Linked DNA regions of Homo sapiens. The protein of the gene in region 2 binds, or shares a complex with, the protein of the main gene of each other region. Each region holds a gene or a part of one and is shown on either strand. Other genes may lie near its edges. A codon is read from its position in the direction of its gene.

Region 1 (4,506 bases), about 170 Mb from region 2:
GTCCCTTCCCTTTGGGAAAATAATGGACCACTCTCTTTTGTCATCTGCAGGAATGGGGGAAGTGAATGATCTCAAACTACAGAAATGGCAGTGAACTTGTCTGTTTCAATTCGGGAGTGGGCTGCTTCCTGATTGGCTGTGATTGGGCTTTCACTGTGGTAAGAGGGCGCCTGAAGTGGGTAGGAGCCAGGGGAGCGGTTAGTGAAGGGTTTGGGAATGGGAGAGCAACCTCCTTCCCCTGAGGATAAAGACAATGAGGTGATGGGATTGTGAACTGATACTGTTCCCTGGAAAATTAGCTCCAGCAACCCTGTGGATTTTTTCCCTTGGGCTACCTCTGATAGCAGCAGGGTGGGCCCTGGAGGTGAGACAGTCCCTTCCATATGCACAAATGACAGTATCAGGCTCCAAGTGTTTCATACCTTTTATTACAAAAATCAATAACTTAATTCAGTTCTGTATAAAGTCGATAGGACTTCTGGTCCAATAAGCAGCCTAAGCTTTCATTCTCATCCCAAGAAGGGACAGGAGTCTTGGCCCAGAGGCTGTGGGGACCACCAAAAGCCTCCCAGGCAGCTGGAACACTGTGTCCAAACCAAGGAAGTCCAATGTGGGGTGTGGCTGAGTGAAGAGCTGTTCCTAAGGAGCCAAGTGCTGTCTATACAGGCTTGCCCCCTCCAGGAGCATTGGGTCACCTCTGGGGATGGCCAGGCTGAATCAGCACTGCCAGCCTCTGCCCACCTGATCTCTGCCTGGGCTGGAACAGGTCACCTGAGCAAAAGCATGTCCCCAAGAAGGCCAGCGATGTCAACATCTCCAATGATAGGGCGAAAGAAGAGGTCCCCAAGCAGGCTGGTCGGAATGGACTTGAGGGTGGAGGCCGTGAGGAGGACACGGGTCAGGCGGCCTTGGGCTGCTGGGCACCAGGGTTCCAGGACTTCACACAGCACCCAGTGAGCCTCCTGCTGCAGGTGCCCAATGTGGGAGGCGGCTTGGAGGCCTGGCACATCTGTGGGCAGAGAGGGAGAAGAGGGCTGGTGAGCACCCTACTCCCAGCCACCAAAGGACAAGACTGGCCCAAGATCTGGGCCATCAGAGACACCCCTCTGCCTCCTTTGCTCGGCCTTTGAGGTCCCACTACTACCTCCTCCTTTAGAGGAGGTAATTTATTTATCAATTTTCAATGTATTCATCCATCCATTTATGAAGAGGCAGTGTGGAGTAATGGTTAAGAATTAGGCTTCCTGGGTATGAATCCCAGCACTGTCACTTATTAGCTGGGTGACCTTGGGCAAGTCACTTAATCTCTGGGCTTCAGTTTCTTTATCTGTAAAACGGGAATAATAATATTAATAGGACCTGTCTCCTAGGCTTTTATGAGATTTAAATGAACTAGTATATGTAAAACCCTTAGAATAGGGCCTAACATATGGTAAGTGTGATATGAGTATTTGCTACTATTATTACAATTAATTACTACGATTTATGCGTGCCACAAGGGACTCCTGGGGAACTCTCATCTCAGATGCTCTCCAGATTACAAACAGCACTGTCTCCATCTGCCGCTCTCCTGGCCGAATTCCATAAAGACTCCTTTCCTGTCCTCCCTACGCCCCTTTCAGTCATCTCTTCTATGTGATCTTTCTGAACCCACAGAGGAGTTTTAGCTCTAGAGCTTCACCATGCAGCCTTCCTTTGAGGATGTGACTGAGACACAGCTGTGTCTGCCCACCCCACCTCCCCACAGCCTTCTGTAAAGGTCAGAGCAAATTTCTCAGGCAGAGTGGCAAGGGCCAGTCTCTGGAGTGAATAGACCTGAGTTGCCATCCTGGTCTGTCCCTACCTGGCTGTGTTACCTTTAGCTAGTCACTTAGCTTCTCTGTGCCTCTTCTGTGAGATGGCTATTTGATGAAAATGAGGACTGGCCAAGCACGGTGGCTCACGCCTGTAATCCCAGCACTTTGGGAGGCCAAGGTGGGTGGATCACCTGAGGGGTTAGGAGTTCAAGACCAGCTTGATCAACATGGTGAAAGCCCATCTCTACTAAAAAGTACAAAAATTAGCCGGGAGTGGTGGCGGCCATCTGTAATCCCAGCTACTCGGGAGGCTGAGGCAGAGAAAATTGCTTGAACCCAGGAGGCAGAGGTTGCAGTGAGCCAAGATCGCACCACTGCACTCCAGACTGGGTGACAGAGTGAGACTCTGTCTCAGAAAAATAAAAAGAAAATGAGGACCCAATGAGATAACAGATATCAAACCCTTAGAAGCTACCTTCCCTGGCTGGCCCCTGCTTCAGCCTTGCCCCCCACCCAGGAGTGTCTGGGAGCTCACCGGGGTTGAAGAGGATGGTCCCTTTCAGGCAGGCATATTCCTTGGGGCTAAGCTCCAGGCTCCAGAAGGACTCCAGACAGCATTGAAGCCACTGCACCGCAGCCAGGGAGGGCTGGGGTCTGTCTGGCAGTTGGCCACTGCCTCCACTGCTGCTGGGCTCCTCCAGCAGAATCTTCTTGAGTATGCTGGGCACCGGGGCCTCAGCCACCTCAAAGGTCACAGCATCTTGGGCCAACCCAAGCAGGAAGAGGGGGCCCCAGCAACCCTGCAGCAGCCGCCGCTGGTCCTGGGGAGGCAGCTGCCAGAAGGATGGCAGGTTCCTGAGGAAGGCCACTGTCTTGGCCAGAACATCCAAGGCCTCCCGGCAGGTGCGATGAGGTGCACATAGCTGGACGGGCCGGTGCTGCCTACATAGGCAGCGGCTACGGGGTCGGGGGACAGCCTTGAGGCTGGAGCTCAGAAGTGCGTAGAGAATGGCGGGGCGGCTTGCAGCTCCCTGGCATGGGCAGGCCCCTGGTTGGCTGGTGCTCATGGTTAGGGATCTGCTCTCACTTCCAGCTCTCTGGCTCTGTGTTCTGCGCTGTGGGTGCTATTTATATTCCCAGTGAGTGGAACGGGGGGAATGGCCCAACAACCTTGACTCCAGAAGTCATGTTCATTGAAAAAAACACACAGACATTGCCCCTGGCAGGAATGGTGGGGAAGTGGTGGGGGAGGGGGCATTGGGAACCCCACGTGGCACTGATATCACCTCAGTCAATGAAGTGGCCGGTGCAGGGCACAGGGCCACCTGCCGCTCACTCAGCTGCCCCTTATCAGATGACTCAAGTGGATAAACAAGGTCATTAACTCAGGCTGTACCAGGGCACCAAGGCCCCAGGTGCACAATCAGCAGGTGTCCCCATTGGTGCCCGCTCTTGTGTGCACAAAAGACTAGGGCTTTTGCTAAGCCAGGAAGCCAGCCCCAGAGCTGGGTGGGCCTTGAATGCAAGGCCCAACCTGGAAGTGCCTTATCACTAGCTTGTTTGCCTAACCTTGGGGCCCTGCTTCTGTTGTCAGCCAGAAGCAGGCTACAGGGAAGGGAGCCAGGACCCTGGGGGCTGGGAGGACTTTGCCCACTGTCCAATCTAGGAGGCCTCCTCCTCTGATTCCAGTTCTGGGCCCCCTGCAGGAATAAGGTCCTTCAGAATCCTTATCCCCAGCCTGATTCCTACCACTCCTGAAAGGCCAGGTCTGCTGAGAAGAACTCACAGAATTATAATAAAAGATAGTTGCCAGCCGGGCACGGTGGCTCATGCCTGTAATCCCAGCACTTTGGGAGGCTGAGGAAGGGGGATCATTTGAGGTCAGGAGTTCAAGACCAGCCTGGCCAACATGGCAAAATCCCGTCTCTACTAAAAATACAAAAATTAGCCGGGCATGGTGGCATGTGCCTGTAGTCCCAGCTACTCTAGAGGCTAAGGCAAAAGAATCACTCGAAACTGGGAGGCAGAGGTTACAGTGAGCTGAGATCATGCCACTGCTCTCCAGCCTGGGCAACAGAGCAAGATCCTGTCTCAAAAAAATATATATGTATATGTATATGTATATGTATATGTATATGTATATTTATATGTATATGTGTATATATATATACACATACATACATACATATATATATATATATATGTATATATATGGTTGCCATTCTCTAAGCACTTATTATGTGTCAGGCACTTCCCACTCTAATATTGGCAGCCTCTTCCTAAGGCTAGATTCTTACTTTATGAGACTAAAAAAGCTAAAGTGACTTGCCCAAGGTCATCCCACCAGGAAGACAAAGCCCAGATCTTGCCTGACTCCAAAGTCCTTGTTTGTTTCCCTGGACCCACTGGCCCAATTGCACAGCCAGAGCCTGAGATTCTCAGAGCTTGTGGCTAGCTGCCCCCACCTTGCTGCTGCCTGCTTTGCAGACGTTGCCCACTTGTGATCTGGGCAGAAGTGTTGCTCTGCTGCCACGTGGCTCCTCTGTCCCGGGCATCTTTCTCAGATGGTGGAGCACAGGGGATGAGAGAAGGTGGAGAGGCCCTTGGTTGTGTCATGTTCCTGGACCTTGGCCAGTCCAGTGTGGCAAGCCTTCTGCTGCATGCTGTTGGGCAGCCTGGTGCCCTGGATGGGGAGAGAGAGGCTCTGGCA
Region 2 (3,815 bases):
TCTTGTACATTGGCCCAAACTTATTCCTTCCTCCACGCATTCGGTCGGCCCTTACAGCTGTTGGGGGTGGGGTGGGGGGAAGGAAGGAAAGGTATAAATAAGGTGCAAATTATTAGCATTCTTCAGATATTTAGAAATGTAAATCGACAAGAAGTGGTATGTGTGTGGTTGTTTTCGTTACAATAGCCCACAAAGATTTCCCAAAAAACCATGTCCTCTTTATTTATGAATTCCTTCCTCCAAGTGTGTGTCGTCATCAAAAAAATACTTTGGCCACATAGGGACATATTAACCCTTTTGTGGATGGAGGAGAGTTCATAATTTTTGTTAGACATAGAAATATTTCACATAGGCGTGGTGCGGTGGCTCACACCTGTAATCCCTGCACTTTGGGAGGCCAAGGCGGGTGGATCACCTGAGGTCAGGAGTTCAAGACCAGCCTGGCCAACATGATGAAACCCCATCTCTACTAAAGATACAAAAAATTAGCCAGGCGTAGTGGTGGGTGCCTGTAATCCCAGCTATTCAGGAGGCTGAGACAGGAGAATCGCTTGAACCCGGGAAGTGGAGGTTGCAGTGAGCCAAGATCACACCACTGCACTCCAGCCTGGGCAACAAGAGTGAAACCCCTGTCTCAAAAAAAAGAAAAGAAATATTTCACATTGCTAAGAAAGAGTATCAGTCGTTCTACTAAGAGTATATGCTTTTATTATGCCAGTTCCTTATGGAAACCCAAACTGCTTTGGGGTTTTCTTTTGCAGGGGTGTGGAACTGAGTTACCCAATTTTGGATTAAATTGTGAATACTTTCCCACAAGATACCTTCCTCCCTGAAAGCCATTTTGGCCACCTTGTTGCAATAACAAAAGGGGTGGGGACATGTTCTTGGAAAATCATGTTCACCTGGACTTGATGAGCCCACATCAGATGACCACCAGTTACTGCTTTTAATTTAAGTAGAATTGGACATAATTAAAACAAATTCATTTCAGAAGCTGTCAAGAGAGTCTTCTGCGACAGTGGTGTGTGGAGTCTGCGGCCATGACTAATAAGTTAGTTAGCAGTTCCCTCTAAGTCCATAGTGGCCAATGGCAATTAGACAGAAACTAGAGACCTCTGATAGCTTGTGACATATTGAACTTGCTGGAGGTTAAGTTTTTGAGCTTTTTATCTTGGATTAGTATCACATTAAAAATTTATTGTAAATTCTAAGTATACAGAATATTGCACAAGATTATAAAGAGTTTTTCATCTGGATGATAATTTATTGAATATTCAGTTGTTTCATATCACTCCTAAGGAAGCATGAGCATGTACCACAAGTGATTTACAATTGTGAAAGCTTAACTTAAAAAAAAGAAAGTTTAATTATTTAAGGTAAAGAAATGCAGCCTTATTATTTTTGTTGAAAAGGAATTAAATGACATCATGCAAAATCACAACATTTACTTATCTTCTGAGTCTCTTACTGTATGTAGTAAGCATCTACCACAATATTTTGCTATTTGGGAAATAATAGTGATTGGTAATAAGAAAATTAATAAGCATCAATTATTTCCTTTCATGATCTCTTAAAAATGATACTGACATTAACAGTCCTCATAATAACCAAAGTGGCTACCTCTGTTCGGAAGAAGCGTGTTAGCTATTCAGCAGATTTATATGATTTTTTTTTTTAGTATTTCTATCAAGTATGAGTTCCATATAACAGAAAAGTTCCAAATAAAAATAGCCTGTGCCTCATTGATCAAATAAAATGCACTCTTGTATCTAGCACCATCGGTGATATGTATCCCTGTTATTGCTTTATTTGCAGTATATTTAATCCATGGAAAGCAAGCAGGTCAGAGGCTAGAAAGCAGCAACATACCATAGTAGTCCATGAACTACAAATTATTTACAGCAGTCACATATTAACTTTACTGCCTGCCAATCTGTACATTGTAGTATAGGGTCTGCTCTTTCAACAAAGTTCAAGTGTGGCTTTTCAGGAGCCACTTTCTTGTTCTTTTCAGACCTTTGCTAATGATTTAATAGTTCGTTATTTTTCATGTTTCCTGATTCTCAATTTTTTATTTTGCAGCCTCAGTCATTATCTTTTAAAAAAATACATTTCTACACTATCAAAGATAATATCCTACATGAGAAACTCCTTTTCACCATTAAAGGCTTTAACTCTTAAGAATCATGAAATTAGTAGTTAACACTTGTGACAAGCACACCTCTTTTAAAAAGAATTGAAATCAAACTTTTCCAAGGGTATCTTGATTTAAAAACTCAAAGAATATTTTACTTTTAATAGTTTTACAAATTATTCTTGTTTTCAGTTGGATTGCTTTAGTCTTATTTTCATAACCTGATCTTTTTCCCTTTTTTGTGTCTAATGCATCTGCTCCCCAGACTAAAAAAAAGGGGGTGGGCAGGGGAAAGACAACTAATATTTTAAATTTTTTTCCTAGTAGATTTCACCATGATTAAATGAGACTCAGACTATTCTGCAGATGAAACATAGAAAGATCTTACAGTATTGTCGGTAGTGTTAAAATGCTGGGAAAATAATGTTACCATGCTATAAGTACAATGTTGTTTTACAGTTCATGTCCTTGGAGAGTTTTAATAGGCAGTAGTCTTTAGAAGAATCTTACCTTCTAGCTTCATTCCAACACTTAGACATTTTTGAAAACGACAGTAAGGACAACGCTTTCTCTGTGTTTTGTCAATTTGGCAGTTCTGGTTTTCTATACATGTGTACCTTTTATTATTTTGGACTGTTCGCTTAAAAAATCCCTATAAGACAGAGAAAATAGTGAGACGTATTATAAATCTAACACCCGTCTTTTCCATTGTTTCATTTTAAGAAAATCACCAGTAAATCCTCTCATTGCACTATTTGAGCCCTTATGTGGTTCTGTGGTTTATTTTACATTTCAGCAACATCAACCTTCCCAAACTGTGCCAGGCCATGGTGGAGATTTTTCTGGCATCAGTTTTATTCTTGAAGAATTACGTCAAATCCTGGGGAGATTTGGCTACCCACCATTTTATCCCAACAGTCAGAAAAAATACACTCTATATAGATAAATTTTTTTTTAATCTATTTTCCTATTATCCCACATGTTCCTGATAGAGGTACTCATGAAGTCCTGGCATTGTTTTTAAGTAGTCTGATATAATTTCAGTGATAAACCATTGCAAAATGCCAGTGGAAAAAACTGAATAGCAAAACACCTCAGATTTTTTTTTTTTTTTAACAAATGTCAACACTGGATAGTTAAAAGCAAAAGGATTTAAAGAGTAAAATGGGAAAATGCTCATAATTCCACTGGAATACATTCAAGTATGGGAACTGTTCTTAAAAAGGCAAAACTAATGGAAGGAAAAAGCATGTATCACAGATAGCTGAATTGTAGCACACAGGGTATGAGCTTTCCTTATATTTTATATAAAAGAATTAATCAAAAATAAAATGTGTAGCTTTATAATATGAGATTTACCAGGATAGTATTCATATTTAACCCACTTGCCACAAAGAGAAACATTCTTACTTTGTTATAGAGAATGGAGGGATTTTCCTGGTGGTGGTTTAAGTAATTGTACTGAGTTTTCCACTTAAAAACAAAAACAAACAAACAAAAAAAACTTTGAAAAATAGTGAATATTGAATTTACTGGGAATGTATTAAAAAGTCCTGAGATAAATTCTTAAAGTATAATTTATATTTTTGGTAACAATATAGCATATTTTACATATTAAAATCCATGCACTTAAATAGGTCATATATTTATAAAAATTATTATATTAAAAACTAAAATCTGA

Evidence for each region.
Region 1: the proteins of NR5A2 (region 2) and NR0B2 are in contact, whole or in part, in a crystal structure (PDB 1YUC), measured with the Homo sapiens proteins. Residues at the interface, in NP_995582.1 of Homo sapiens: Phe354, Val357, Arg361, Phe366, Val371, Asp372, Gln374, Met375, Leu378, Gln379, Asn529, Asn530, Leu531, Glu534, Met535; in NP_068804.1 of Homo sapiens: Arg17 (codon at 2,815), Pro18 (codon at 2,812), Ala19 (codon at 2,809), Ile20 (codon at 2,806), Leu21 (codon at 2,803), Tyr22 (codon at 2,800), Leu24 (codon at 2,794), Leu25 (codon at 2,791), Ser26 (codon at 2,788), Ser27 (codon at 2,785), Ser28 (codon at 2,782).

What each region holds. Positions count from the first base shown.
Region 1 is NC_000001.11:26,911,078-26,915,583, forward strand, and holds NR0B2 (nuclear receptor subfamily 0 group B member 2), read right to left. Parts: upstream 2,899-4,506; 5' UTR 2,864-2,898; coding exon 2,332-2,863; intron 1,328-2,331; coding exon of another isoform or gene 1,236-1,327; exon of another isoform or gene 1,010-1,235; coding exon 768-1,009; 3' UTR 412-767; downstream 1-411. Other genes in the region: nuclear migration protein nudC, read left to right, coding at 66-158. UniProt on the Homo sapiens protein: Transcriptional regulator that acts as a negative regulator of receptor-dependent signaling pathways. Specifically inhibits transactivation of the nuclear receptor with which it interacts.
Region 2 is NC_000001.11:200,044,414-200,048,228, reverse strand, and holds part of NR5A2 (nuclear receptor subfamily 5 group A member 2), read right to left. Parts: intron 2,787-3,815; coding exon 2,645-2,786; intron 58-2,644; coding exon 1-57. UniProt on the Homo sapiens protein: Orphan nuclear receptor that binds DNA as a monomer to the 5'-TCAAGGCCA-3' sequence and controls expression of target genes: regulates key biological processes, such as early embryonic development, cholesterol and bile acid synthesis pathways, as well as liver and pancreas morphogenesis.